Linked DNA regions of Homo sapiens. The protein of the gene in region 1 binds, or shares a complex with, the protein of each later gene. Each region holds a gene or a part of one and is shown in the gene's direction. Other genes may lie near its edges. The genes, in order: NUP107, NUP160 and NUP98.

Region 1 (10,132 bases):
AAATATTAGTCTAGAAACTTAAAGCTCAGTAAGTTACTAGAATTAATAAGAGAATTTGTTAAAGTAGCCAGATACAAGACAACGTTTTTTTTTTAAAAGTCAAGTCTTTCTGTGCTTGTTATAACTATTTAGAAAAGGATTTAGTACCCCCTCCCCAAAAGTTCCATTTAAACGAGTGACCAAAACTAAAGAGATCTAGGAATAAAAAATTAATCCAGGGTTTCAAGCCCTTCATTTAAAAAACTATAGAATCTTACTGAAGGACATAAAATAAGACATAAATAAATAGATATATCATGTTCCTCGATGAGGGCATTTAATATAAATGTCACTCATTCCAAAATTAGCATAAAAACCTAATGCTTTGGGGTATTACTTCTGGACAGAAAATTTTGTCAAGTAGAAGAATAATTGAGAATGGCAAGAGCATTTTGAAAAAGAACAATCTGGGTTTGGTGGCTCACACCTCTAGTCCCAGCAGTTTTGGAGGCTGAAGCAGGAGGATCACTTGAGCTCAGGAGTTTGAGACCGGCATGGACAACATGGCAAAACCCCATCTCTACAAAAAAAATTTTAAAAATTAGCCGGGTGTGGTGGCATGCTCCTGTAGTCCCAGCTTCTCAGGAGGCTGAGGTGGGAGGATCACCTGAGCCCAGGGAGGTGGAGGCTGCAGTGAGCCGTGATTGTACCACTGCACTCCAGCCTGGGCAACAGAGTGAGACTCTGTCTCAAAAACAAACAAACAAACAAAAAAAACCACACTGAAAGCAAAAAAAGTAGTTAGAGGGTACTTGCCTTACTCAATAATAACACTTAATATGAAGATACAACAAAACAGTATAGAACTGACATGAAAATAAATAGATGAGTGGAACACAAAGTCCAAACTAGATCCAAGTATATATGAGAACTTAACAGATGTCAGAGGTGACATTTCATTTCAGAGGGAAAGGGATGGTTTATTTAAATAAATGGCGCTGGCATAATTGGCTTTCCATCCAGAAGAAAACAAAGCTAGATCCTACTTCATGCCATGTAACTAAAATAAATTCCATATAGAGCAAAGGTTTGAATGTAAAAATTAATAAATGCTGAAAGAAAATTTAGACAGCCAACTAAATAAAAATTAAAATACGTTTGACAACAAAAAATGAACTATATTCTTCAAAAAATCAAGCTGCAAATAAGTTAGAAAAGGTTTTCTCTACTCTGTACCTGATCACTATTTTTTTTTTTCACCCTTGGTGCCATGTACAGAAGAGAATACTCAAAGAATGCTTTCATGTACTGCTGCTCATGTTGAAAGAAATCTTAATAGTTTATTTTGCTTAGGTCACATGAGTTCTTCCTTTCTCGTCCACCATGTGTAGTGCCAAGGTAAATAGGAATAAAATATAAGAATAAAAGTTTAATACCATTGAGAGATTAAATTGTTATAACATAGGTCTCTACTTTCAAAGATGCTTTTCAGTTCTGGATTTGTAAGCTGTGAGTATATTCCAAAGGCAGTATCCTTTCCATGTTTTATTTTGTTTTGATCTTTCTAAGGCCCTTCATTTCCAGCTTTTTCTTTCTATATGTTCCTTCAAAAGTTTAACATTTTTAGTTTAACAGTGAATATATACTACAGAATGACTGCTAGAAGATTTATGGAAAATTAAAAACTTTTTTTTCAGAGAGTTCTGGAAGAGAATCAAGAACATTATCATATAGTTCAAAAGTTTCTTATCCTGGGAGACATTGATGGTAAGATATGGTTTTATTTTACTTTGTGTTTTTTGTGTGTGTTTTTTTTTTTTTTTTTGAGACAAAGTCTCACCCTGTTGCCCAGACTGGAGTGCAGTGGCTCAGTCTCAGCTCACTGCAACCTCTGTCTCCTGGGTTCACAAGATCCTTCAGTCTCAGCCTCCTGAGTAGCTGGGATTACAGGTGTGCACCACTACGCCTGGCTAATTTTTGTATTTTTAGTAGAGACGGGGTTTCGCTGTTGGCCAGGCTGGTCTCCAACTCCTGACGTCAGGTGATCTTCCCTCCCTGGCCTCCCAAAGTGCTATATGTTATAGACATGGGATTGCAGGCATGAGCGACTGCACCCAGCCAGTTTTATTTTACTCTTTATGAGTTCTTCATTGTCTTATAGTGATTTTTTAAAGTTATCCAAACAATGCATGTGACTTACCATATCTTTTAATCTTGATAAATATTAACCTATTTGAATGCAACTATTTACTTTATGTCAGAGGTGACCTTTCATTTGGTTTTTATAAAATAAAGTTCGGATTGAACCCAAACTCTGTTTCAAAGAGGGTGTAGAGTTATATCATGGCTATTAATTATGAGACAGTGACTTGAAAGCACTATAGGAGTGAAATAAATGTTCTTGGTAATGTTTATTTTTTTCTTTTGATTTTATTCCTATTGTTGAATCTTCACTTTGATGGCTTGTAGGTTTGATGGATGAGTTTAGCAAATGGCTTTCCAAAAGCAGAAACAATCTACCTGGACACCTGCTTCGCTTTATGACTCACCTTATTTTGTTTTTCCGTACTCTGGGACTACAGACCAAGGTATATAAAAATGAACGATTTCTTCTTCTCTGTAATGTTGATGCTATATACCTATTGTCAAGAAAACACTACTTTTTTTATTATTGTTTTCTAGAAATGGTGATAAGGAATCAAAAGTCTTCCATATAGTCTTGTATAGTCACTCAATGATAACTCACTGAGAGTGGCCCTTTAGGGTTCTAGTCTGTGGCCACAGAATGCTGTTGGTTAACTGGTTTTTAATAAATTCATAACTTTATCCTTGTCTGTACCCAGCTTTAAATCAACCAGCTAAGCTAACTAAACAAAGTGAGTGCTATGTGAGATTTTAAAACTTTGTTGGTTGTTGTTTTGTTGCTTTTTTTCTAAAAAAGAAGATAACATTTTGGTCAGAGTGCATGTAGAAAGTGAATGATACAGTAGTTGAAAGCTTGGGCTTTGGAGTAGGAGTCCTGAGTATATACCCTTATTCAGCAGCTTCTATCTGTGTAACTCTGGGTAAATAAAACTTCCCTTGGTCCTAATTTCATCCTCTGTAAAATGTGAACAATAATAGTAACTACCCAAAAAGAGTTATGGTAAGGTTAAATCAGGCAGTAGATGAACTTTGGTAAGCACTTAGCTTGGTGTATAGTTACTGCTCAGTGGTAAACATTACAATTATTAAATTATTTAATAATGGAATTTGTATCAAAAATTTTGTTACTTTCATATAAGCAGTGTATTTATAATTATGTCTTTTTTTCCTATGAAGGAGGAAGTTTCTATTGAAGTTTTAAAGACATACATACAGGTAAACTTTGAGAACCTACAACCTGATTGTTTTTTACTATTTTAATGAAAACAAAACTCAGAATGATGCTATTTTAATTCTCAGTGGTAAGAAAGCATCAGAATCCATAAGAGATCTTTTAATTATCAGCACAGTTGACCTTTGAATAATGCAGGGATTAGGAAAACAACCCCCACCGCCCCGCACAATCAAAAATTCACTATAACTTTTGACTCCCCAAAAACCTAACTACTGATACCCTACTGCTGACCAGAAATCATACCAATAACATAAACACACAATTAACACATTTTGTATATTACATGTATCATATGCAGTCATCCCTCAGTATACTTGGGGGATTGGCTCCAGGACCCCCACATATAACAAAATCTGTGTATACTCATGTCCCACAGTTGGCCCTGCAGAACCTGCATATACGAAAAATTGGCCTTCCATATTTGCAGATTTCACATCCAGATAACACTGTATTTTCTAAGTTGAGTTGAAAAAAATTTATGCAGAAGTGGACCTGCACAGTTCAATCCCGTGTTGTTCAAAGCTCAACTGTACTGTATTCTTATGATAATGTAAGTTAGAGAAAAGAAAACATTACTAAGAAAATCATAAGGGGCTCGGCGAGGTGGCTCATACCGGTAATCCCAACACTTTGGGAGGCAGAGGCGAGAGGACTGCTTGAGTCCAGACGTTTGAGATCAGCCTGGGCAACATAGGGAGACCCTTCTCTCTACTACAAAAAATTTTTTTAAATTAGCAGGGCACAGTGGTTCATATCTGTAAACCCAGCTACTCGGGAGGCTGAGGCAGGAAGATCGAGTGAGCCCAGGAGTTGGAGGTTGCAGTGAGCTGTGATCTCGCCACTGCCCTCCAGCTGGGTGACAGAGTGAGACCATCTCAAAAAAAAAAAAAAAAAACAATCAGGCCAGACGTGGTGGCTTGCGCCTGTAATCCCAGCACTTTGGGAAACAGAGGTGGGTGGATCGCTTGAGCCCAGGAGTTCAAGACTAGCCTGGGAAACAGCGAAAACCTGTCTTTTTTTTTTTTTTTTTTTTGAGACGGAGTCTTGCGCTGTCACCCGGGCTGGAGTGCAGTGGCACCATCTCGGCTTACTGCAGCCTCCGCCTCCCAGGTTCAAGCGGTTCTCCTGCCTCAGCCTCCCGAGTAGCTGGGATTAAAGGTGCTGGCTAATTGTCTGTATTTTTAGTAGAGATGGGGTTTTGCTATGTTGGCCAGGCTGATCTTTAACGCCTGACCTCATGATCCACCCCCCTCAGTCTCCCAAAGAGCTGGGATTACAGGCGTGAACCACGACACCCGGCCTGGACCTGTCTTTTTTTTTTTTTTTAAGTTTAAAAATTAATAAATAACTTTTAAAAGTTAAAAAAAGAATAAATAATAAAAATCATAAGGAAGAGAAACTACGTTTATAGTACTATACTGTACCTGTTAATACTGTAAGTTTATGTTGTCTGTTTACAAGATGAATTGTCTATTTGAAATGGACAACCACAGTTACAGACCTCAATCTACAGTATATCAAGCAATTCACCTTTTTCTTGTAATCTCATGACTTTTCTCTGCTTCTTGGGAGAACTTCCAGTATCACTACTGGCACTTTGTATGGCTCCTGTGGTGTTATTAAGGGTTTATAGTATTGCACTAAAAAAAACAAGACCTGGGAAAGCTTACTTTTTATTGCAGTATGCAACTGAAGAGACCAACAGCTCTTCAGAGATGATTAGCATCACACGGCATTTTAAATGGATACTCACAGCACTTGAGCTCACCCCAGTAGTGGCAGGAAGTGGCTCTAAAGTTATTACAGTAGTATAGTATCTACTACAGTTAGTTGTATGCAGTTATGATTTAATACTGCATCTGTATGCTTGTTTACATTTCTCTAGACCACAATGTATGGTCTGTAAATGTGTGTACGTTTTGATAAATTTTAACTTTTTATAATAGATTCATATATATTTTATAGTAGTAAGTGATAAAATAGACCAGAATCTACATATAATGGATTTATGACATACCTTTTTTTTTATTTTTTATTTTTTTTTTTGAGATGGAGTCTCACTTTGATGCCCGGGCTGGAGTGTAGTGGCATGATCTTGGCTCACTGCCACTGCAGCCTCTGCCTCACCGGGGTCAAGCGATTCTCTGGCCTCAGCCTCCCAAGTAGCTGGTATTACAGGTGTGCACCACCACGCCTGGCTAATTTTGTATTTTTAGTAGAGACGGGGTTTCACCACGTTGGCCAGGCTGGTCTCAAATTCCTGACCTCAGGTGATCCAGCAGCCTCGGCCTTCCAAAGTGCTAGGATTACAGGTGTGAGCCACTGGCCTACCTAGCTTTTTCTTAATTTACTCAGTATTTCTAGGCTATTAATTTGTTTGTGAGTCTTTTTTTTTTTTTTGAGACGGAGTCTCACTCTCTCGCCCAGGCTGGAGTGCAATGGCGCAATCTCAGCTCACTGTACTGTACCCTCTGCCTCTTGGGTTCAAGCATGAATATTTTTCAAATTGTCACAAATCTCCAAAAAATGTTCTAATATATATATATTTAAATTAATGTATTTATTTATTTAGAGATAGGATGTTGTTCTGTCACTCAGGCTAGAGTTCACTGGCTAGATCATAGCCCATTGTAACCTCAGACTCCTGGGCTCAAACAGTCTTCTCCCCTCAACCTCCCAAGTAGCTGGTACTATAGACACGTGCCACCATGGCCAGCAAACTTATTTTTTATTTTTTTGTAGAGACTGGGTCTCACTATGTTGGCCAGGCTAATCTCAAACTCCTGCCCTCAGGGGTGATACTACCTTTTTTTTTTTTTTTTTTTTTGAGAGAGTCTCACTGTCACCCAGGCCGGAATGTGGAGTGTGGTGGAATGATCTCAGCTCACTGCAACCCACCTCCCAAGTTCAAGTGATTCTCCTGCCTCAGCCTCCCAAGTAGCTGAGATTACAGGCATGCGCCACCACGCCTGGCTAATTTTTGTATTTTTAGTAGAGACAGGGTTTTGTCTTGTTGGCCAGGCTGGTCTTGAACTCCTGGCCTTAGGTGATCCGCCTGCCTCAGCCTCCCAGAGTGCTGGGATTATAGGCAAGAGCTACCAGGCCTGGTCTCAAGTGATACTTCTGCCTCAGCCTCCCAAAGTACTGGAATTACAGGCGCAAGCCACCATACCCAGCCAATTTTCCAATATATTTATCGAAAAAAATCCACGGTTCAAACCTGTGCAGTTTAAGAGCCAACTGTACTCACTTTTTGGAATTTAAAATTATTCTGGGCTGGACACAGGGGCCCATGCCTGTAATCCCAGCACTTTAGGAGGCCAAGGTGGGCAGATCACTTGAGCCCAGGAGTTTGAGACCAGCCTGGGCAGCATAGTGAAAAGCCATCTCTACTAAAAAAAAATACAAAAAATTAGCAGGGCATAGTGGCATGTGCCTGTAGTCCCACCTACCCGGGAGGTTGAGGTGGGAGGATCACCTGAGCCCAGGAGACAGGTTGCAGTGAGCCATGATCATGCCACTGTACCCTAACCTGGGTGACAGAGTGAGACCCTGTCTCAAACAAATAAATATAAAATAAAATTATTCTGTTTAGCAACACAAATCCACATCTGTATGAACCTCTCCTGAATACATTTGAAATTTTGAAGTATACTTTTAATTTTATTATTGACATACTTTGATCTTTTTCTATTTTTTAGCTTTTAATAAGAGAGAAACATACAAATCTTATAGCATTTTATACCTGTCATTTGCCTCAAGACCTAGCTGTTGCCCAGTATGCATTATTTTTGGAAAGTGTTACAGAATTTGAACAGCGCCACCATTGCCTGGAGTTGGCTAAAGAAGCAGGTAAAAATGGTTGAAAACTTTGTCTTTTGGCCTTTCTAGGCAAATGTTCATTTTGGCTGTAGTAACATTTGTCCTTATAGTTTTAAATCTTATTTCTGTTGAGGGGAAAAGAGGAATAAAATTTTCAGGGAATTTCTGTTTTAGGACTAAAGTTACTTATGCTGTAACTCATATGTAAAATATCTTTTAATTCTGGCATTTTCTTTTATATAAATATCTTTCATATTTTACATATTTTATTTTTAAGGAATTACTGTTCCAAATTTACTGAATCATTATGACTATTTAGAGAATATTAGTATCAATGATTAATCTTTGTTTTTTGTCGCTTCAAAAAATTATTTAGATTTGGATGTTGCAACAATAACAAAAACTGTAGTTGAGAATATTCGAAAGAAAGATAATGGTGAATTTAGTCATCATGACCTGGCCCCAGCCCTAGATACTGGCACTACTGAGGTAATTTGGGATGGGGGGGCAGAGGTTTCTATAACTTCTAATAATCTTTTATGTTATTCCTTGGTGAACTTCTCCCTTCGTAAAAGAAGTTCTATTAGGTTTTCTTTTTTAAGAATGTGTCTTTGTCAGCCCAGACCTTTTAAATTTAAAGTCTTATGTAAAGGATTACTTATAGTAGTATGTTAAAGGAGCTTCTTTAATAGAAAAAAATCTCAGCTTTGGCTTGTTGCTCATCAGGTTATTTTAAATACTTGATTAATCACTAACTTATGTAGCTTGCTTACTCATATTTTCAGAAAGGAATAGAAAGTTATATCTAAGAAAACTATTTTAGAGTAACATTTAAAGGAATCACGTGGTTAAGTTGGTAAGGCATACAATATATAATTCCAGATTAATATTTTCTATAATTTATTTTTATTTTTATTTTCTTGAGACAACAAGGTCTAGCTCTGTTACCAAGGCTGGAGTGCAGTGGCGCTATCTCTGCTTACTGCAACCTTCGCCTTCTAGGCTCAAGCCACCCTCCCTCAGTCTCCCGAGTAGCTGGGATTACAGGCATGTGCCACCATGCCTGGCTAATTTTTTGTATTCTTTGTAGAGAAGGGGTTTTGCCATGTTGTCCAGGCTGGTCTCGAACTCATGAGCTCAAGAGATCCGCTCGCCTGGGCTTCCCAAAGTGCTGGGATTACGGGTGTGAGCCAGCATGCCCAGCAGTATTTTCTATAATTTAATAGAGAGCTGTTAAATATGAAAATACACTAAGGAAAGTTAGATGCTTTCATAATTTTGTATAACTTGAGAGAAAATGATGTTTACTGGAAGTACAGGTGTAAGTTAATTCTACTAATTTGTAGAATATCTTTAAAAAAAAAACTCTGATATTCCTTTTTCTTTTTTTCCCCTTTAATAAATAGGAGGATCGTTTAAAAATTGATGTAATTGACTGGTTGGTATTTGACCCAGCGCAGAGGGCAGAAGCACTGAAACAAGGCAATGCAATTATGAGAAAATTCTTGGGTATAGTATATTTTTATGCAGCTTCAAACTCCTGGGCTCCATTCTTCTTCCTACCTCAGCCTCCCAAGTAGCTGGGACTACAGGCACCCACCACCACACCCACCTAATTTTTAAAAAATTTTTTCTAGAGATGGGGTCTCACTATGTTGCCTAGGCGGGTCTCGAACTCCTGGCCTGAAGCAATCCTCCCACCTCAGCCTCCTGAAGTGCTGGGATTATAGGCGTGAACCACCACACCCAGATTTTTTATTCTTTTTTAAAACGTTTTTGTTCAAATTCGTGTATTTTTGAATTTGGGGTGGGGGGTTGCTTTTTGTTTTTGATCCTTCCATAGGGAGGAGAAAACCAGCCACTCTTTATCTATCAAACCTGGTATTATGAAACAAAATATATTTTAATGGTGAATTTTCATTGTCCTAATCAATTTTGCAAATAATCTCAAGGCTATCCGACTTTGAAAAATGAATTGCTTTAAGACATAAAAGTATGTAAAAGTAACTGCATTTGATGTATCCTTTTGTGATAGTATCACATTGAGATACGAAAAAGCCAGTCTATCAGGTAGAAAGATCACCAAGACCTTTAACAGAGTGCCTTGGGCCCTGAAATAGTTACAGGTCACTGTAAAATTGGTAAACCAGTGATTTGACTCCTTTAGAAACCATTACAGAGAAGTCCGTAGGCATTCAAAATTGTGTATCTTTTTTCACAGCATCAAAAAAGCACGAAGCTGCAAAAGAAGTATTTGTGAAAATTCCTCAGGATTCTATAGCAGAAATCTATAATCAGTGCGAGGAACAAGGAATGGAAAGTCCACTTCCTGCTGAAGATGATAATGCTATCCGAGAACATTTGTGCATCAGAGCTTATTTGGTGAGACTGTAAAGAAAGCCACAGATGTGCCTACTTCATGATGATTTTTCGGATTCACTCTCAGAGTTTGAACTTTTTTCTAGAAGTAGTGTTGGTTCATCTTACCTCTCTTGTGACTATAGTGCTGACTCATCCACAAGGGGACTGACTTCATGACCTTATCTTCATTAGCATGATTCTCTAATCAATGCTAACCAACCAAGATCATCTCACATGGTAGATAGTGTCTATGATGTCTGGAAGTTATGTTTTCTTAAGATTTTGTGATGCATGTCTCAGCTTTAAATTTCTGCTTTTTTCAATAACTGAGAAAAAGCAAGATGCTCTAGGTTTGTTATGACTAAAATAGCAGCATACTCATTCAAAATTCATTCAAGGCTAGATGCGGTGACTCACGCCTATAATCCCAACACTTCGGGATGCCAAGGCAGAAGCATTGCTTGAGCCTGGGAGTTCAAGACTGGCCTGAGCAACACAGTGAGACCCCTGCATCTCTACAAAAAAATAAAACAAAATTAGCCAGGCATGGTAGCATGTACTTGTAGTCCCAGCTTCTTCAGAGGCTGAGGT
Region 2 (11,035 bases), on another chromosome or scaffold:
AATTTAAAAAAAAATTTTTAAAAGGCCAGGCATGGTCGCTCACACCTGTAATTCCAATACTTTGGGAGGCCGAGATGGGAGGATCACCTGAGGTCAGGAGTTTGAGACCAGCCTGGCCAACATGGTGAAACCCCGTCTCTACTAAAAATATAAAAATTAGCTGGGCGTGGTGGTGCACGCCTGTAGTCCCAGCTACTTGGGAGGCTGAAGCAGGAGAATCACTTGAACCTGGGAGGCGGAGGTTGCAGTGAGCAGAGATCAGGCCACTACACTCCAACCTGGGCGACAGAGTGACACCCTGTCTCAGAAAAAAAAAAAAAAAGTAAAAAAAGAGAAATTTATAGAAAATATTACCTGAAAGGTGAAAACAATCCAGGGTGTATAGTTCCCAAGGATAAGTCCAAAGCACAGGAGGGTCAAGTCTAGGTGGGAGCCCTGGGCTTTCAGGGCCCCTCAAAGGCCCTGGAGTCTAAAGTCATGGTGGTTTCCTAAGTGGGTAGAAAGAATACTGAAAACGGAATTGAGAAGTCACTGACATACTTCATTTATTCCACAATTCTGCTTTTTTTTTTAGAAACAGAGTCTCGTTCTGTCACCCAGGCTGGAGTGCAGCGGCACAGTCATAGCTCATTATAACCTTGAACTTCTGGGCTCAAGGGATCCTCCTGCCCCAGCCTCCCAAGTAGCTGAAACTACAGGTGTACACTACCATACTTGGATAATTTTTTTTTTTTTTGTAGAGATGGAGTCTCACTATGTTGCCCAGGGTGGTCTCAAACTCCTGGGCTCAACCAATCCTCCTGCTTCAGCCTCCCAAAATGCTGGGATTGTAGGTGTGAGCCACCATGCCCAGCTGATATTTTTAACCTATGGGCAAAATGAAAGTAAAGCCATGTTTTCCAAAATATATTCTCAAAGAACAATGGTCCAATGAGTTGCCCCTTGAAAAGAGTATTCTGTATGTCAAAGAGTCTGGAAAGCAGTATCATGCATAAGGCCTTCTTGGAACTTCACAAAGCTATTATATTAATGTCTTTGAAAAGTTCTTCAAGAAAGAAATATGTTTAACTTTATTTATCATCATTTCCCACACTTGTTTAAACCACCAAATTCTTCTTTCAAGGAGTAGCTATCAAGTTGGTTATGAAAATCTGCTTAAAGTTCAATTAACAGTATTGTTCAGCTGAGCGCAGTGGCTCACACCTGTAATCCCAGCACTTTGGGAGGCCAAAGTGGGTGGATCACGAGGTCAGGAGTTCAAGACCAGCCTGGCCAAGATGGTGAAACCCTGTTTCTACTAAAAATAAAACAATTAGCCGGGCGTGGTGTCGGGCACCTGTAATCCCAGGTACTCAGGAGGCTGAGGCAGGATAATCACTTGAACTCAGCAGGCAGAGATTGCAGTCAGCTGAGATCATGCCCCACTGCACTCTAGCCCGGGCAACAGAGCGAAACTCCGTCTCAAAAAAAAAAAAATAAAGAAAAAGTCCGGGCGTGGTGGCTCACGCCTTCGGGAATCCCAGCACTTTGGGAGGCCGAGGCGGGCGGATCACGAGGTCGGATGTTCAAGACCAGCCTCACCAACATGGTGAAACCCCATCTCTACTAAAAGTACAAAAATTAGCCAGGTGTGGTGGTGCGTGCCTGGAATCCCAGCTACTCAGGAGACTGAGGCAGGAGAATCGCTTGAACCTGGGAAGTAGAGGTTGCAGTGAGCAGAGATCGCGCCACTTCACTCCAGTGTGAGCAACAGAGCGAGACTCCATCTGAAAAAAAAAAAAAGTATTTAAATAAAACTTGCTGCACAATATTGGTAACATTCTGCATTTTGTTTCTAAACGAAGTCACTACCTAACCACTAGATGGCAATATGATTCAATTTATGTTATAACCATCCCCCAGAACATTAATAGTTCAAAGGGTATTTGAGTTTTCCAAAAATGCATATATGCACTTATTCATTCATTTAATTATTCCTCAAACATTTATTAGGTAACGTGAAGTTCCCGGAATTCTGATGGATGTTGGAGATAAGACAGTGATCTAAAGCTAAAAAGTGTTCACTGTCAAAAAATGTAATTCCTAGATTCCTATAAAACCGAAACATGCCTCATCAATTTAACATTTTTTTCTGAGAAAAAAATGAAAAAACATTACTACATTAAATATGTACATTGAGGCCGGGCGCGGTGGCTCATGCCTGTAATCCTAGCACTTTGGGAGGCTGAGACGGGTGGATCACTTGAGGTCAGGAGTTCGAGACCAGCCTGGCCAACATGGTAAAACCCCACCTCTACTTGAACCCAGGAGCTGGAGGTTGCAGTGAGCCAAGATTGAGCCACTGCACTCCAGCCTGGGCGACAGAGTGAGATTCTGTCTCAAAATTAATTAATTAATTAATTTAATTTAATAAAAATAAAAATAGCAATCATGTATTTAGCTCATTAATATGCAATTTGGACAGGGCTCAGTGGTCATGACTCATCTGTGCTCTACAAAATATCTGGGACCTGGGGACTTACCAGGCATCTCTCACTTCAAGTAGAATTAGAGTCTCTGTGTGTGGTCTCTCCCTGCAATCTGCCTAGGATGGCCCCGGCGTAGCCAAATTTCTTACATGGCAGCTTGCTTCCCCTATAGCCAGTCTTCAAAGAGAGATGTAGACTCTCTTAAGCTAGGCTGGCACAGCATCACTTTTGCTGTATTATATTCCTTATAGCAGTTACAGAACCCTCCAGATTTAAGGGGAGGGGACAAAGAAGGCTACACTTCTGGATGGGAACAATGTCAAAGAATTTGTGGCCATCTTTCTTTTGCCATATGGATATATGAGATTTGGGTGTTGGGATTAAAAGAGAAAAGTCCAGGGTAATTACTAGATTTCTAGACTGGGCCACAGTGGTGATGTCCACACAGATATAGACTACATGTGAGAGTATATAGTGAGACTATATAGAGAGGGGTAACATTTTGGATATGTTGAATTTGAGATGTCCATGGGAAATCCAAGGGGCATCAAGGAGGCAACTGAATATAAAAGGCTGAGAACTCGGCAAAAGAGGTCTGACCTCTAGATATGAAAGTGGAAATAATCAGTCTTCGGAATAGTTCTCTCTACTGTGGCACATCAGTGTCATGAGCAGTTATAACTTAGATAACCAGGAATTTGTAAATAATAACAGTTGAAGTGTGGCCAGGCGCGGTGACTCACACCTGTAATCCCAGCACTTTGTGAGGCCGAGGCAGGCAGATCATGAGGTCAGGAGATTGAGACCATCCTGGCTAACACTGTGAAACCTCATCTCTACTAAACATACAAAAAAAATAAGCCAGGCGTAGTGGCAAGCACCTGTAATCCCAGCTACTCAGGAGGCTGAGCAACTGGAACAGTGCTGGTAACTGCGATGGGGAAAGTAAGTGTGGGGAGAGAGGTTAGGACTTCAGTTTCAGACATGTTACATCTAAGATACAAAATAGGCCGTTGAATATATAAACCTGGACTTCGGGGGAGAAGCTTAGACTGGAGGTATACATTTGGGGATGATCGGCATATAACAATGCAGTATTTAAAGCCAGAAGACTGGGTGAGATTCTCAGGGGAGTGTTTGTAGATGGAAAGGACCAAGAACTGAACTCTGGACACTCCAACATCAAGAGGTTGGGGAAAAGAGGAGCATCTAGGAAAGGAGTCTGAAAAGGAACAGTTAGTGAAATAGGTAGAATCAAGAGAGTGGCGTCCTTGATGCCACATGAAGAATGTGTTTCCACGAGGAAGGAGCAAGCAATTGGTCAAATTCTACAAGTAGTCAAATAAGCTTAGAAATAACAGTTCAGGCCAGGTGCTGTGGCTCACGCCTGTAATCCCAGCACTTTGGGAGGCAGAGGTAGGAGGATCGCTTGAGGCCTGGAGTTTGAGACCAGCCTGGGCAACATAGGAAGACCTTGTCTCTACAAAAAATAAAAAATAAAAAATTTGGCAGGGCATGGTGGCACAAGCCTGTGGCCCCAGCTACTCGAGAGGCTGAGGCAGGAGGATCACCTCAGCCCAGGAGTTTGAGGCTGCAATGAGCTGGGATCACATCACTGCACCCCAGCCTGGATAACAGAGCAAGATTATGTGTCAGAAAAAAGAAATAGCAGTTTAGTATTAGACAGATAATGTGGATGCCATTGATAACCCGGAAAAAAGCAGTTTCAGCAAGGCAGTAGAAGCAAAAGCCTGAAAAACATGGATTTAATGAGGCCAGATGCAGTGGCTCACGCCTGTAATCCCAGCACTTTGGGAGGCCGAGGCAAGTGGATCACTTGAGGTAAGGAGTTCGAGACCAGCCTGACCAACATGGTGAAACCCTGTCTCTACTAAAAATACAAAAAACATTACCCAGGCAGGGCAGCGCATGCCTGTAATCACAGCTACTTGGGAGGCTGAGGCAGGAGAATCTCTTGAACCCAGGAGGCGGAGGTTGCAGTGAGCCGAGATTGTGCCATTGCACTCCAGCCTGGCCAACAATAGCGAAACTCCATCTCAATAAAATATATATATATATATATATATATATATATATATATATATATATATATATATGAGAATGAGAGAGAAGGAATTAAAACACTCTTGAGTTTTGCTGTGGGTGAGAGGAGAAGAGATATGGAGTAGTAGCTGCAGAGAGTGGAGGTCGAGGGAATGTTTGTATGCTTAGTACATACAGTACTAAGAGAAAAGGGGAAAAGACTGAAAATGGAAATAATTGAATTGCTAGAATGATGTCCTTGAGCAGGTGTTCTAAGGAAGTAGAAAGGTTGTCTCTGCATAAGCTCAGAGACAGTTTATAGTAACAGGAAGGGAAGGCAAAATATGTGGTTACAGATGCTGGTAGGTGGGGAGATGTCATTATAGAGGAAGTCCTCCCTTCCTCCTTCCTTCTTTCCAGATGGGTGTCTTTCTGGCCATGCTGGAGCACAGTGGCAGGATTGTAGCTCACTGTATCCTCCAACTCCTGGGCTCAAGAAACCTCCTATAGCTGGGACTACAGAGGCACACAACTATGCCTGGCTAGTTTTTTAAAAATTTTTATTAGAGATGGGGGTATGTTGCCCAGGCTTGTCTTGAACTCCTGGCCTCAAGCCATCCTTCCATCTCAGCCTCTGCTTTAATTTTCTAAATGAAGAAGCAAGCTGAGAGTCAGGATGACAAAGGAGGCAATGGAGGTTATAGGAGTTATGAAATATTCATTTAGAACAGTAAATGGAGAAGGCAAATACAATGTGTTTGCTGGGCAGCATTATGGGCCCACTCAAGGTACATGGTCCTGATGGAGTTACAGGGAGGCATGTCAGTATGGGTGTATAGTTTTCTGTTTTCTTTCTTTTCTTTTTTTGAGACGGAGTTTCGCTCTTGTTGCCCAGGCTGGAGTGCAACGGCGAGATCTTGGCTCACTGTAACCTCCACCTTCCGGGTTCAAGCGATTCTCCTGCCTCAGCTTCCCAAGTAGCCGGGATTACATGAGCGCACCATCATGCCCAGCTAATTTTTCTTTTTTTCTTTCTTCTTTTTTTTTTTTTTTTTGAGACAGTCTCGCTTTGTCACCCAGGCTGGAGTGCAGTGGCGCGATCTTGGCTCGCTGCAACCTCCACCTCCCAGGTTCAAGCGATTCTCCTGCCTCAGCCTCCCGAGTAGCTGGGATTACAGGCGTGCACCACCATGCCCGGCTAATTTTTTGTATCTTTAATAGAGACAGGGTTTCACCATGTTGGCCAGGTTGGTCTGAAACTCCTTACCTCGTGATCCACCCACCTCTGCCTCCCAGAGCGCTGGGATTACAGGCGTGAGCCACCGCGCCCGGCTAATTTTTCTATTTTTGGTAGAGACCGGGTTTCACCATGTTGGCCAGGCTGGTCTCGGACTCCTGACCTCAAGTGATCCTCACGCCTTGGCCTCCCAAAATGCTGGGAGCCACGCCCGACCCGGGTGTATAGTTTTCTCCAGTCATGTTCAGCTACAGATTTGAATGTAGTCGAAGTTGTAGTTTTTACCGATGAAGAGTTAGGCAATGAAGTAATTTAATGGTATTCAGGATAAGAAAGAAACACCAAAGAAGTGTGGGACAGTGAAGATTTTGTAGAACAATGGATTCCAGGTAGAATGAGGGGACTGCACTGCCAAAGTTGGTGTCCCAGAGGGAGTGAAGTGGAAAGATAGAAAATGATGGTCGGAACCAGATAAATGAAACGGAGAATGACAGGGAATGGTTGTGGTCACTGGTAATAGAAGTGCTTTAACTTCTATTGGCTATCACTAAGGAACAAAACCTTCCCCGCTGGAGATTAGCATTTTCCTCGATTTTGAACATCTACTCCCACAATATCTTCTAAACACCCACTATGGGCCCTTACTGCATTGACAGCCAAGTGCAAGATCACGGGTGGAAGGAATGGCAAATTCCTTTCACGTATCCAAGTGAGTAGCACTCAGGTAACCTCAGCAAGTGGCAGCACCAAGGTTTACCACATTACGTTTCATTATACAGGAATACACGAATACAGTCTCTTGGGGAGGGGAAAGACCAAAACCAAAGGCCTTTCCCTCACTACCCCTTCCTCACCCCGCCATCCCAAGTGTCGCCACTGAAGAGCGAAGGGAGGATCGCCAAAGATTTACAGACGGACACCCTAACCGAGGGAGAGGTGACCATAAACCCGGGATCCGGCAGAGGACGCCGAAAGGCCGGGACTCCCCGGACCTCGCCCCTCCTGGTCGACTGAGCCCCGCGTTTTAGAAACAGAAACAAACCCGGCCCCGCCCCCTGCCCTGCGGCCGCTGAGAAAAGAGCACCGCCCTCCGGAGGCGTTCCAGCCGGCCACTGGAAGGTTCCCGCAGATAGAGTCTGCCTCCCCTGCCCCCTTCTCTTCTGGATTCCTCGCTGCCCACCCTCATTCTCCCGGTGGAAGCCTCGCAACGAAGGGCCGGAGCCGCCTTTCTGCTCCCGGAATGCTTCACCTGTCCGCAGCTCCGCCCGCCCCACCCCCGGAAGTGACGGCGACCGCGCGGCCCTGCCTTTGTTCCGTTGGGCGTCGCGGCGACGGCGGGAAGATGGCGGCGGCGGGAGCCCTGGAACGGAGCTTCGTGGAGCTAAGCGGAGCTGAGCGCGAAAGGCCGAGGCACTTTCGGGAATTCACAGTCTGCAGCATTGGTACGGAAATGGCCAGGGAGGGTGCGATCCCATCTGTCCCCTCGGGCTCCTCTCATGGGTCCCAGGGTCCCTGACGCCCTGTTTCATCCTCCTGAGTCCACATGCCTCTAGCCCCGGGATCAGAGATTCCTTGATGTCCGACGTTTTCCTCTTTTCTTTGTATGGGTTGTCAGTCTGTCACTCTCTGCTTTGTCAGCTCCCTTAGTCCCTGTCATTTCTCAGAAGACGCGTGTGCAGGCTGACCACGTTCATTTTGCAGGGACTGCAAATGCCGTGGCTGGCGCCGTAAAATACAGTGAAAGCGCGGGAGGCTTTTACTACGTGGAGAGTGGCAAGTTGTTCTCCGTAACCAGAAACAGGTTCATTCATTGGTAAGTGTTGTGGTTCGCCAAACTCCCCTGGAAGGTAGGGTTTGGTGTATAAATTTTCGTCGCTGTACCCAAAGTGCTATTCTAGAAGCGGTAATTGACACTTAGGGAAAGAGAAAGATTGTTTTTTCAGTTCGTATCAGAATCGGGAAAACTGAGACACAGAGTTCTAGAAGAGATACCTCTCCCCCTCCCCCCCCCCACCCCCACACACACATACACCAAGCAACACCAGAAGCAGAGGAAATGTAGCTTAGGGGAATAAAGCCCATAAGACCAATTTTAAACATGAACCCGTTATGTTTTTATAGTGCTTTACAGCTTCCTTCATTGTACAAATACGTTCGAGCTTCAATATGTCAGGCATTGTGCTAGGTACCAGGACGAAATGAACAAAACTGCAATTTTCATCATGCAAGACGTTGTAGCAATGTCAGAATAGATGTAGACCCACTTTTCATGGGGAAATTTTTTGGAGGAAAACTTGCCCTAGAGGAAAAATATACGGGTTATGAGAGGCTAATAAGAGGACCAAATATAATTAGTGGGGCAGGGAAAGGCTTTAAGGAATTCACAGTTACCCTGAGATCTAAAGGACACGAGGTTAGCCAGGCATGGGGAGTGGACAGAGAGGAGTCCAGCAAGTAGGATCACCATATGCAAAGGTCATGAAGTGGAAAGAATGTGGCGGGTTTGGAACTGACCAAAGATCTGTGTGGCTTAAGTGCAGTGGGTAAAACAGAAAGTGATGTGAGATACTGAGGCTGGAGAGGTAGGCAGGACTCGGACCATGAGGGACCCTTAGGCCATTTTTAAGGATTTTTGGATTTTATCCTAAGTACATTGAGTAATAATTGAAAGATTTTTAAAGAGTTACTAACATCAAAATTGCATTTTTGGATGGGAACAGTTAACACTAGGGATTCCAAAAGGAGGGAGGGAGGGGAGCAAAGGTTGGAAAACCTATCGGATACTGTGTTCACAACTTGGGCGGCAGGATCATCAGAAGCCCAAACCTCATGTATATAGGAATATACACACAATATACTCATGTAACAAACCTGCACATGTACCCCTGAATCTAAATTTTTTTAAATGTATTTTTAGAAGATCTCAGTCTACTTTGTGGAAAGTGGATTTGGATTAGATGGGTATAATACAAAAAAAATTTTGCTTTTATCATGGCCCAAGTAAGGGTTGCTGGTGGCTCAATTGTGGGAATGACTAGAAATAGAAAAGTAGATGGATTCAAGATACCTTTGGAAGATAGATTCACTAGGGCTTGGTGGTGGATTGAATATGGGGTAAGGGATGGTAAAAGAAGAGAGAACAAGGACAGCTCCCTGGTGTCTCATGTGACTAACCAGATGTGAGTGGGGAGGGGTTGCCATTTACAGAGATACCCGGAAGATGGATTTTGGATAGATATGAATAATTCTATTGGACATAGTAAATTTGAAGTACCTGGGGAGCAGCCCTTTGGAAATGTCAAGTAGGCATTGAAGTTTACAGGTCTAAGGCTCAAAAGAGTGACTTTATGTTAGAGATACAAATTTCATTTAATTAAATATTTTGGCTGGGCACAGTGGCTCACACCTGTAATCCCAGCACTTTGGGGGGCTGAGGTGGGAGGATCTCTTGAGGCCGGGAGTTCAAGACCCCATTTCTACAAAAAAAATTTTTTTTTCTTTCTGCTTTTTTTTTTTTTTCTTTTTGAGAGACAGTCTGGCTCCATTGTCCAGGCTGGAGTGCATTGGTGCAATTATGGCTTACTGCAGTCTCCGCCTCCTGGGTTCAAGTGACCCTCCCACCTCAGCCTCCCAAGTAGCTGGAATTACAAGTATGCACCACCATGCCCAGCTAATTTTTCTATTTGTTTTTGTAGAGATGGGGTTTTGCCTTGTTGTCCAGACTGGTCTTGAACTGCCAGACTCAAGCAGTGCCCCGTTCTCGGCCTCCCAACTTGCTAGGATTACAGGCGTAAGCCACCGTGTCCAGCCTGATTTTTTAAAATAAGCCAGGCGGAGTAGCGTGTGCCTTTCATCTTAACTACTCAGGAGGCTGAGGTGGGAGGATCCGATCATGCCACTGCACTCCAGGTGGGAAAAAGGGTAAGACCCCATCTCTTTTAAGAAAACAGGAAGAAAGAAAGAAAATTTGCTTGCCTAATGTATTTCAGTCCGTTTTTAGGGAACAGGGATATAGCAGGGAACAAAACAAAGTCCCTACTCTTATGGAGGAAGATAGGCAACAACAACAATAACCAAAAAACCCCAAGTACATGCAGTTTTGTTACAGGAAAAGGGTGCCGATCCAGACCCCAAGGGAGGGTTCTTGGATCTCGCACAAGAAAGAATTCAGGGCAAGTCCGCAGTGCATAGTGAAAGCAAGTTTATTAAGAAAGTAAAGGAAGCCAGGCATGGTGGCTCACACCTGTAATCCCAGTACTTTAGGAGGCCGAGGCAGGTGGATCACCTGAGGTCAGGAGTTCGAGACCAGCCTGACCAACATGGTGAAACCGTGTCTCTACTAAAAATACAAAATTAGCTGGGCATGATGGCACATGCCTATAATCCCAGCTACTTGGGAGGCTGAGGCAGGAGAATAGCTTGAACCCAGGAGGTGGAGGGTGCAGTGAGCTGAGATCACACCATTGCACTCCAGCCTGGGCAACAAGAGCAAAACTGCATCTCAAAAAAAAATGTAAATAAAAGAATGGCTACTCCATAGACAGAGTAGCTCCGAGGGCTGCTGGTTGCCCATTTTTATGGTTATTTCTTGATGATATGCTAAACAGGGGTGGATTATTCATGCCCCCACTTTTTAGACTCCTGATGTAACTTCCTGATGTTGCCATGGCATTTGTAAACTGTCATGGCGTTGATGGGAGTGTAGCAGTGAGGACAACTGGAGGTCACCCTTGTCGCCATTTTGGTTTTGGTGGGTTTTGGCTTGCTCCTTTATTGCAACCTGTTTTATCAGCAAGGTCTTTATGACCTGTATTTTGTGCTGACCTCCTATCTCATCCTGTGACTTAGAATGCCTTAACTGTCTGGGAATGCATCCCAGTAGGTTTCAGTCTTGTTTTACCCAACTCCTATTCAAGATGGAGTTGTTCTGGTTCACATGCCTCTGACAGTTTGTCAGTTGATTAATGGAATAGGAAAAAGGGAACAGCATAAGAGGGAAGAGGAATACCTGTGGGAGTTAATGTTTTATGTAGGGTGGTTGGGCAAGAGCCAGGGGTAAGCTGACATTTGAGCAGAAGAAAGGATATCTGGGGAATGAGTATTTCAGGTGGAGCCTTCCAAGAAAAAGGAATAAAAAGTGCAAAGAACCCTGAAACAGGAGCCTGTTGTGTTCAAAGAGTGGAAAGGAGCCAGGAGTCTGCAGCTGAGTGAACAAAGGGTAGAATAATAAGAAAGAGATAGTTGAGGGCCAGATCAGGGCTTTGTTGGTTATTTTAAGCTTTGGCTT
Region 3 (10,132 bases), on another chromosome or scaffold:
TACAGGTGAAGTTCTAACCCACCTTTTTTGTAACAGAAAGCCAAACTAATATTTTATCTCCATTGCATAGGATCAGGTCTCTTCCTTGGTTATTAAGATCATTGAGTGCTCACTGTAATGGGGAAAAAAAATACAAGAATATGGCCAATGTCTGGGCCTCATTCTCTTATTCAAGGAGATAAGGCTATATTGAGAACTAGTAGATAGGGTTTCTGGTTTTAACTGCATTAGAATCCAGAGTCCTAGTTCCAATCCCAATTTTGTTGTGTTTTGTTTTTGAGGCAGAGTTTCTTTGCTCTGTCGCCCAGGCTGGAGTGGAGTGGTGTGATCTTGGTTCACTGCAACCTCCACCTCCTGGGTTCAAGTGATTCCCCTGCCCCAACCTCCTGTGTAGGTGAGATTACAGGCGTGTACCACCACCACACCTGGCTACTTTTTTTTTTTTTTTTTTTTGTATTTTTAGTAGAGAAAGGGGTTTCTCCATGTTGGTCAGTCTGGTCTCGAACTCCTGACCTCAGGTGATCTGCCCGCGTTGGCCTTCCAGAGTGCTAGGATTATAGGCATGAGCCACTGAGCCCGGCCCCAATCCCAATTTTGTAACTTTATTACTTTGTGCAAGTCATATAATAGCTGTGAGTACTGATTTTTCTCTATAAAATATTACTTTGTCTACATCACAGGGTACTTTTAAGACTCTGTATGTGCTCCACAAAATTTAAAAATTTTAGTACCTAGTAGCACAGGTTTCTTTAAGCTATGTCTTTACTTCCCTTTATCCCAGTGCCTTTTGGTGTGTTATGTGTTTAACCTTTGGCTTATGTTTGACTTTAAAATTATTTTATCAGCAAACATAGCAACTGCTGTGTGCCAGGCTCTGGTGAGACGCTATAGATACAAAGAAGAGAAGTATTATATGAATTCTGCCTTTCAGGCACACACAGTGTAATGGGGTCCATCCATCACACAAATATACTAGCTCTGTACACAGCCTTGAGGAGGAACAATATTTTTGGTTGTTGTAAACTGCATTTTTTTTTGGTATGGCCTTTTGATTCTGGGAAGCACATTCATTCTATAGATATTGCCTTTTTAGATCATGAAAGCATCATTGCTTACTGATGAAGAAGATGTAGATATGGCACTGGATCAACGCTTCAGTCGCCTGCCTTCCAAAGCAGATACTTCTCAAGAAATCTGTTCTCCCAGACTCCCCATTTCAGCATCCCACTCGTCGAAAACTCGTTCACTAGGTACAGTATAAAAGATGCTATTTTACAAGAAAGCTGTACAGTCATCAAGTCCTGCTTTTCACTTTTCTTCTTCTAACCCAAGTGGACTTCTCTAGCAAGTATCTGCCAAACAACTATACCTGTGACATAAGGGTGCTAAGAGAAATTGTACTTATAAGTATTCATTAAGAGTAGCCAGGTTTTTTGTTTTTAGAGACAGGGTCTCTCTCTGTTGCACAGACTGGAGTGCAGTTATGCAGTCGCACTTACTACAGCCTTGAACTCTTGGGCTCAAGCAGTCCTCCTGTCTCAGCCTCCTGAGTAGCTAGGACTATGGGCATATACCCACTACTCAACTAATTATTTTTTTAAATGTTTATAGAGATGGATCTTGCTATCTTGCCCCAGGCTGGTCTTGAACTTCTGGCCTCAACTGATCATCCTGCCTCAGCTTCCCAAAGTGCTGAGATTACAGGTATGCGTCATTGCACCTGGCAGGAGTGGCCGGTTTTTAAGAACTAGAATTACCTCTGTTTGTGCAGATGCAGAAGTGTATGGAGAAAAAAAGCATTTGTGCTTTGTTTAGGTTCATGTTTTTGTTTGCTTATGAATGTGGATTAGATAGTAAGCTCTGACTTCCCAATTTTTATAACATTACTTAGTTCAGCAAGTTGTCCTGCACTATACTTGTTTTGTGCAGTCCTTACAGCACTGTCTTATTGTCTTCTAGGGACAAGTATTGCTTCTCGTAATGCACAGAGCACATCAGATTTCTACTTTTCACTAAACCTTTTTAAATTCCCAGGGAAGTGATTACATATTTGATTTTAAAGTTTTCTCTTTTCTAGTGGGCTTGTAACTATGTGGGATTGGAAATAAAGTTTTAATATCAGCAAAGAACTTAAGCAGATGTAGTTTCAACATATTTTGAAAGCCAGAGGAACTGGCAGAGAGACATTTGTTTATATTGCTTTAAAAACTAAATATTTTTCAATTCTTTTGAGTTCCCTTATTATCAACTTTGCTTTTTAAAAATATTTTTAACTTCCCTTTGGTATAGAGGAAAGAAAGAAAATATATTAACCAAAAAAGTATCAGTTAAACATTCTTAATAACCTTTTCCGTAATGGATACTACATGAAAATCTGGTACTTCAATAATATTTAACTCCATGCTTTAGACAAAAGCCACGTAAAATTGGGAAACAGGCACTGGTAATAAGAACTGTCCTTCAGCCGGGCACAGTGGCTCATGCCTATAATCATAGCACTTTAGGAGACTGAGGAAGGAGGATGGCTTGAGGCTAGGATTTGGAGAGCAGCCTGGGCAACATAGCAAGACTCCATCCCTATAATAGCTAGCTAGCTAGATAAAAATTTAAATGTTAAAAAAATTTTTTTTTAAAGAACTGTCCTTCAGAAGGTCACATGTACAATTGTAAGATACCTAGTGTGTTTTTATTTCGTTGACTGTAGCATTGTTTAGAGTAGAGTAGGAATTTGAGTTTTGATCTTACTTTTATATGTGCTAAGAAATCGTTACCTTTAGGATTCTGATAAGGGCATGAGGAGTGGTGCCAGACTTAACCTTGGCTTGTCTCCTGGTCCTGTCACTTTGTAGATTTGGACAAGTCACTTATCTGAGCTCAGTTTTCTCATATATACAATAGGAATGATAATAATGCTAATCATTTAAAAGTTTTTGAGGCCAAGTGCAGTGGCTCATGCCTGTAATTGCAGCACTCTAGGAGGCTGAGGCAGGTGGATCACGAGGTCAGGAGTTCAAGACCAGCCTGGCCAACATGGTGAAACTCTGTCTCTACTAAAAATACAGAAAAGTTAGCCAGGCATGGTGGCGGGCACCTGTAATCCCAGCTACTCGGGAGGCTGAGGCAGAGAATTGCTTGAACCCAGGAGGCAGAGGTTGCAGTGAGCCAAGATCATGCCACTGCACTCTAGCCTGGGCTACAGGGCGAGACTCTGTCTCCAAAAAAAAAAAAAAAAAGTTTTTGAAGAGTGAAATGAAATAACATATACAAATGACTTATACAGAGCCTGCTGCATATTTTTAAATAATATTAATAGTGTTGTTGCTTTTATTATTGTTGTAGATATCATCATCATCATTAGAATCTTGTCCTGATTTCCTAGTTCAAAGAGTAATTTCTGCAAAATCTGACTTAGCCTGCTTCTGGTCATCCACATCTGATATAAGTAGTTTGATTAAACATTGAATGATTTCAGCCTTACTGATTTTTGTTATTGTTCAAGAAACAATAGCTTGTGTTTTGTAATAGTCTTTCTCCCCTTCATTCCCGCTTCATTTCAGTTGGTGGGTTACTACAATCAAAATTTACAAGTGGAGCTTTTCTTTCACCAAGTGTCTCTGTGCAAGAATGTCGTACTCCCAGAGCAGCATCTTTAATGAATATCCCATCCACATCCTCTTGGTCTGTCCCTCCACCCCTGACTTCTGTGTTCACAATGCCCAGCCCAGCCCCTGAGGTTCCGTTGAAAACAGTGGGTACACGTAGGCAACTAGGCCTAGTCCCTCGTGAAAAGTCTGTCACCTATGGCAAGGGAAAACTCTTGATGGACATGGCCCTATTCATGGGACGCTCATTTCGTGTTGGTTGGGGCCCCAACTGGACTCTTGCTAATAGTGGAGAACAGCTGAATGGCTCTCATGAACTAGAAAATCATCAGATTGCCGATTCCATGGAGTTTGGATTCCTGCCCAATCCAGTAGCTGTTAAACCGTGAGTCACATTTCTTGATGCTTTTTGAGAAAGGCAACATGATAGGTGAAAAAAACTAATCAGGAGGATAGGGCCCTGCTTTGTCATCTTTCTAGAGAGAGAGAGAGAGAGAGAGAGAGAGAGAGAGAGAGAGAGAGAGAGAGAGAGAGTGTGTGTGTGTGTGTGTGTGTGTGTGTGTGTGTCTCAGTTTTGCTCTGTTTCCCCGGTGTGTGTGTGTGTGTTTTTGAGTCTCAGTTTTGCTCTGTTTCCCAGGCTGGGGTGCGGTGGCACGATCTCAGCTTGCTGCAACCTCTGCCTCTCAGTCTGAGGCTCTTCTCCTGCCTCAGCCTCCTGATAAGCTGGGATTACATGCACACGCCACCACACCCAGCTAATGTTTCCTGAGCTCAAGTGATTGTCCTACCTTGGCCTCCCAAAGTGCTGGGATTACAGTCATGAGCCACCTTGCCCAGCCTATCCTTCATTTTTAAAGTTGACTTTGAAAAAATAAAAAACAACCTGTAATCCCAGCACTTTGGGAGGCCAAGATGGGCGGATCACGAGGTCAGGAGATTGAGACCATCCTGGCTAACACGGTGAAACTCTGTCTCTACTAAAAATACAAAAAAAATTAGCTGGGCGTTGTGGCAGGCGCCTGTAGACCCAGCTAGTCAGGAGGCTGAGGCAGGAGAATGGTGTGAACCCGGGAGGCGGAGCTTGCAGTGAGCTGAGATCGCGCCATTGCACTCTAGCCTGGGCAACTGAATGAGACTCAGTCTCAAAAAAAAAAAAGAGAGAAAAGAAAAAGAAAAAACAACAATGTCTCTTGAACCTCACAATTAAGAATACTGATCCTAAACTTAGTTATTCTAGGTTAAGCATTATCTTGTGAATTTTGAAGGTTATTAATATCAATCTTAAAAATTAGATCAAGGGGCCGGGTACGGTGGCTCACACCTGTCATCCCAGCACTTTGGGAGGATCACTTGAGGTCAGGAGTTCGAGACCAGCCTGGCCAACATGGTAAAACCCTGTCTCTACTAAAATTACAAAAATTAGCCCAGGGTGGTGGTGCATGTTTGTAATCCCAGCTACTCAGGAGACTGAGGCAGGAGAATCGCCCTTGAACCCAGGAGGCAGAGGTTGCAGTAAGCCAAGATCACGCTACTGCATTCCAACCTCAGCGACAGTGTGAAACTCCATCTCAAAAAAAAAAAAAAAAAAAAAATTGGAACAAGCCTAGCTTAGCTATATGCTCATTGTAATTTAGAATCAGTTCTTTAGTATCTAGAAGCTTAGCCTCATGACTTTTGATACCCAAGTATAATTTGAGAAACAGGTATCCCACAATAGCTTTTGGCCCTTGAGTTTTAGCCAGTTCTAAATCTGTTAGGATTCTCATGCTTGTTATAACCTGGCCTAAGAAGCCTTTGTGTTCTGAATGCACTGATCAGATGATTTTTTTTCCCCAGTATATAGCAGATAAGTTCAGTATAGTTTAAGAAACAAAATTTCTTTAAAACTACAGTGAAATGTTTGCATTCCGTTTGTAATCATAAAAAGAAACAGTGGTTTGGTTGAAGTAAAAATCCTAGCTTCTGTCTTAGGTTCATTTTCTATTCTATTCCTCATTTGCTCTTGTAGCCTAACTGAGTCCCCATTCAAAGTTCACTTAGAAAAACTCAGTTTGAGACAAAGAAAGCCAGATGAAGACATGAAATTATATCAGACACCTCTGGAGCTCAAATTAAAACACAGCACTGTCCATGTGGATGAACTGTGTCCTCTCATTGTCCCCAATCTGGGAGTTGCTGTCATTCATGACTATGCAGATTGGGTTAAAGAAGCATCAGGAGACTTACCAGAAGCACAAAGTGAGTACACACTATGTTTCTAATGTTTGATGTCCCAATAATAGTGGTGGTAGCGTATGTTCACGGGAGGATGAATTTCCTGGCACCAGTCTAGTAGGTAAATGCCTGTGCTTGTCATTTTCTGAGGTTGAGTTTAACTAAGCAGATTCCCAAGCAAGAAGAAATTGTCACTATGTTCTTGTCACTTTGTTCTTTTACCCATTAATGTACAAATTCTTCCACAAAGAACTGTAGCAAGTCAAATCCTTGGATTTATAAAATTGAATTTCTTACCTAATCCAGAGAACATAGGGAGAGAAATACATTCCTTCTTGCTTTACTTTTTTTTTTTTTTTTTTTTTGAGACGGAGTCTCACTCTGTCACTGTAGCTGGGAGTATAGGCGCGCGCCACCACACCCAGCTAATTTTTGTATTCTTAGTAGAGACAGGGTTTCACCATATTGGCCAGGATTGTCTCGATCTCTTGACCTCGTGATCTGCCTGCCTCGACTTTCCAAAGTGCTGGGATTACAGGCGTGAGCCATCGAGCCCGGCCCCTTCTTGCTTTTCTAAATCCTATCCATTCTTCCATATCCAGCTCAAGTACTGTTGGTCTTCTCAACAGCTTTGTTGTAATTCCTCTTCCTGGCTTCTTTCAAGATTACCTTTCTCATCTATCATGACCATGTTTTTCTGAATCAATACTTTGATAAAGGGGTTATCTAATTTATTAATATTTCAAACAGTAGAAAAATCATTTTGTTTAGCAAATCACGTTTATTGAAAAATGGGCTGTTTTAGAATGTCCTATGCCACACGTTTTGAGATTTGTTTATGTTCCTTCAGTTCTTTGTATTTACTTAATCGTCTCATTGTCTTTTCAAATGTGTAAGTTATTTTACCAGTGCATACTTGTAAGTGGCTTAAATGATAAACAGTACTTTTGTAGATTGATTTTTATAGACAGAATTTGATCAAAGTAGATATCATCTGAGATGACACTAGCCATAATTAGGCTTGGGGAACCTGTTTAACGGTTACATTTGTTATGTAAGTACCACAGAAACATGATATGAGCAAGCATTTATTTATACTATGTACTTCTGGAAATTGTAAGACGAAGTTGAGTGAGGTAGAGACAGATTCAGGGTAATCAGCTTGAGTGGTTGTTTGAGATGTCTATTAATTTATGTATTTTTAACATCACAGTTAGAAGGATGCCCTCTGTGAAGTTGTTGTAAGACTTTGTCTCGTAACATTGTTTTTCTCTTCCTGCCTTAGTTGTGAAGCACTGGAGCCTGACATGGACACTATGTGAAGCCCTATGGGGCCACCTGAAGGAGCTTGACAGCCAGCTAAATGAACCCCGTGAATACATTCAAATTCTGGAGCGAAGAAGAGCTTTCTCCCGCTGGCTATCCTGTACTGCCACACCTCAGATTGAAGAGGAAGTCTCCTTAACCCAAAAAAACAGCCCTGTGGAGGCTGTATTCAGCTACCTCACAGGCAAAAGGATCAGTGAGGCCTGCTCTCTGGCCCAGCAGTCAGGTGGGGAAGGCATATGGTCCTTCTCTGCGCCTCTGTCGCCTTCCTACTCACTGCCTCCTACCGCTCCCCGCTAATTGTGCATTTCCCTTTGGCTTCTAGCCTATGAGTATTAATTGCGGACTTCCCAGAAAGATTGCTGGTTCCCGTGGAATATGTAATATAACATAAAATTTAACTTTTAATCAAGTAAACAATGTTTAAGGTCCTAAACAGAGAATTAGAAGACATAGTGCGGCTGGGCTCAGTGGCTCATGCCTGTAATTCCAGCACTGTGGGAGGCCAAGGTGGGTAGATCACACCCACCTATTCCTATAGAATAGGAACCATGACTTTTTTTTTTTTTTTTTTTTTTTTTTGAGACAGTTTCACTCTTGTTGCCCAGGCTGGAGTACAATGGTGCGATCTCGGCTCACTGCAACCTCCTCCTCCTGGGTTCAAGCGATTCTCTTGCCTCAGCCTCCCAAGTAGCTGAGATTACAGGTGCCTGCTACCACACCTGGCTAATTTTTGTATTTTAGTAGAGACAGGGTTTCACCATGTTGGTCAGGCTGGTCTCGAACTCCTGACCTCAGGTGATCCACCCACCTTGGCCTCCCAAAGTGCTGGAATTACAGGTGTGAGCCACTGCACCCAGCCGAACTATGTCTTCTAATTCTTTTTTTAGGACCTTAAACATTGTTTACTTGATTAAAATTTAAATTTTATATTACATTTGTAATAAAACTAGAAAGCATAGATAAGCTATCAATCAAAATCACCCAAATCCTGTGACTACTACTCACTGCAAACATTTTAATGTGCAATTTGTACTTAATTCTTTACTTTGTAATACATACAAATATGTCCAGACACTGTGACATATGCTTGTGAACTTTTCAAAGGTGATATCCTGCTGTGTATTATATTCTGTTCTTTTCATGTGGCACATTACAAATGCCCTGTAATACAGATAATTATCAAATACTTCTTAGCATTCTTTTATGTATAAATGTACCATAGTAGTAAATTTCTTCCTTCACATTGAGACTTTTTTTAAAACTATAAACAGTACTCTGAATTGCTATAAAATATGTTCTATATCAATTCATTCAAATAAATATATAGAAGTTGAATTTCTGGGTTGAGGTACTCACTGGCTTTTTAAAAGGAATTTATATGCATATATTTACTTCTTTAAGTTCCCTTTCACTAATGAGGCAATTCAGCAAGTACTTAATGACTGCCTAGATATAAATCTTTTTTTTTTTTTTTTTTTTTTTTTAAGACAGAGTCTGTCTGTGTGTTTACCAGACTGCTGGAGTGCAGTGGAACGATCTCAGCTCACTGCAACCTTTACTTCCTGGGTTCAAGCGATTCTCCTGCCTCAGCCTCCTGAGTAGCTGGGATTACAGGTGCCTGCCACCATGCCCAGCTAGTTGTCTTTTTTTTTATTTTTAGTAGAGACAGGGTTTCGCCATGTTGGCCAGGGTGGTCTCAAACTCGTGACTTCCAGTGATCCACCCACTTTGGCCTCCCAAGTGCTGGGATTACAGGCATGAGCCACCGTGCCTGGCCATAAAGTCTTGATAAGAATACAGGATGGCATAGTTCAGCTTAATCTAATATGATCAGATCCTTATTCAAACCTTGATTGTTGGAACCTAATTTATCCAAAGCCAACTAATTGGAGCCATCGACTGGATTTATTTTGAAGAGTTTTGCCACTTTTGGGATTATAAGGAACAAATCACAGGAAAAGCCAGAATCAGTAAGCTATATAAAGGGCTTGTTGCATTCCACTGTCACTACACATTTAGCCTGGTAGCTTCCTGTTTTCTTTTCTTTTTATTTTTTAAATAGAGATGGGGTCTGTATGTTGACCAGGCTGGTCTCAAACTCCTGGCGTCAAGCAGCCCTCCTGCCTCAGCCTCCCAAAGTGCTGGGATTAGAGGCGTGAGCCACCACATCCAGCCTCCGTCTGGTACTATTTATGGTCTTTGTGCATTTGTACAGTGAGAATTTATCTTTGGGATTGATCTTGTATGAACTTATTATGAATCATTAAAAAAAGGTTATGCTCACCAGGACACCAACATGTAGTAGGAGAGGATCTTAAGGCATGCCAGAGTCAGATTCTTAGGGCTGTTGATTCATAAACTCCACTTTCTTCCTGTTTATTTTGACTGTAAGGCTAAACCTCTGGTAAAGGTACTGCCTTTTAGGTTACTAAAAGCTTTTGCTTTACTACTCCCCCCCTTTTTTTTTGTTTTTTGTTTTGTTTTTGTTTTTGTTTTCGAGACAGTCTCGCTCTGTACCCCAGGATGGAGTGCAGTGGCATAATCTTGGCTCACTACAACGTTTGCCTCCTGGGTTCAAGCGATTCTCCTGCCTCAGCCTCCTGAGTAGCTGGGATTACAGGTAACGTGCCACCACACTCGGCTAACTTTTGTATATTTAGTAGAGATGCCGTTTCGTCATGTTGGCCAGGCTGGTCTCGAACTCCTGACCTCAGGTGATCCGCCTGCCTCAGCCTTCCAAAGTGCTGGGATTACAGGCGTGAACCACTGCCTCCGGCCTTTTTTTTTCCCTCCCCCCTGCACCAAGACAGAGTCTTGGTCTGTCACCCAGGCTGGAGTGCAGTAGTGCAATCTCTGTTTACTGCAACTTCTGCCTTCTGGGTTCAAGTGGTTCTCGTGTCTCAGCCTCTTGAGTAGCTGGGACTCCAGTCACGTGCCACCACGCCAGGCTAATTTTTGTATTTTTAGTAGAGACAAAGTTTCATCAT

What was found.
Region 2: NUP107 (region 1) and NUP160 share a complex: the UniProt entries of both Homo sapiens proteins name them as parts of the nuclear pore complex.
Region 3: NUP107 (region 1) and NUP98 share a complex: the UniProt entries of both Homo sapiens proteins name them as parts of the nuclear pore complex.

The regions. Positions count from the first base shown.
Region 1 is NC_000012.12:68,724,051-68,734,182, forward strand, and holds part of NUP107 (nuclear pore complex protein Nup107), read left to right. Parts: intron 1-1,676; coding exon 1,677-1,746; intron 1,747-2,448; coding exon 2,449-2,567; intron 2,568-3,300; coding exon 3,301-3,339; intron 3,340-7,059; coding exon 7,060-7,210; intron 7,211-7,556; coding exon 7,557-7,669; intron 7,670-8,586; coding exon 8,587-8,689; intron 8,690-9,401; coding exon 9,402-9,562; intron 9,563-10,132. UniProt on the Homo sapiens protein: Plays a role in the nuclear pore complex (NPC) assembly and/or maintenance. Required for the assembly of peripheral proteins into the NPC. May anchor NUP62 to the NPC. Involved in nephrogenesis.
Region 2 is NC_000011.10:47,844,374-47,855,408, reverse strand, and holds the start of NUP160 (nuclear pore complex protein Nup160), read left to right. Parts: upstream 1-7,090; coding exon 7,091-7,190; intron 7,191-7,449; coding exon 7,450-7,561; intron 7,562-11,035. UniProt on the Homo sapiens protein: Functions as a component of the nuclear pore complex (NPC). Involved in poly(A)+ RNA transport.
Region 3 is NC_000011.10:3,696,318-3,706,449, reverse strand, and holds part of NUP98 (nuclear pore complex protein Nup98-Nup96 isoform 1 precursor), read left to right. Parts: coding exon 1-5; intron 6-1,093; coding exon 1,094-1,250; intron 1,251-1,611; coding exon of another isoform or gene 1,612-1,704; intron 1,705-3,557; coding exon 3,558-3,987; intron 3,988-5,610; coding exon 5,611-5,840; intron 5,841-7,101; coding exon 7,102-7,368; intron 7,369-10,132. UniProt on the Homo sapiens protein: Plays a role in the nuclear pore complex (NPC) assembly and/or maintenance. NUP98 and NUP96 are involved in the bidirectional transport across the NPC. May anchor NUP153 and TPR to the NPC.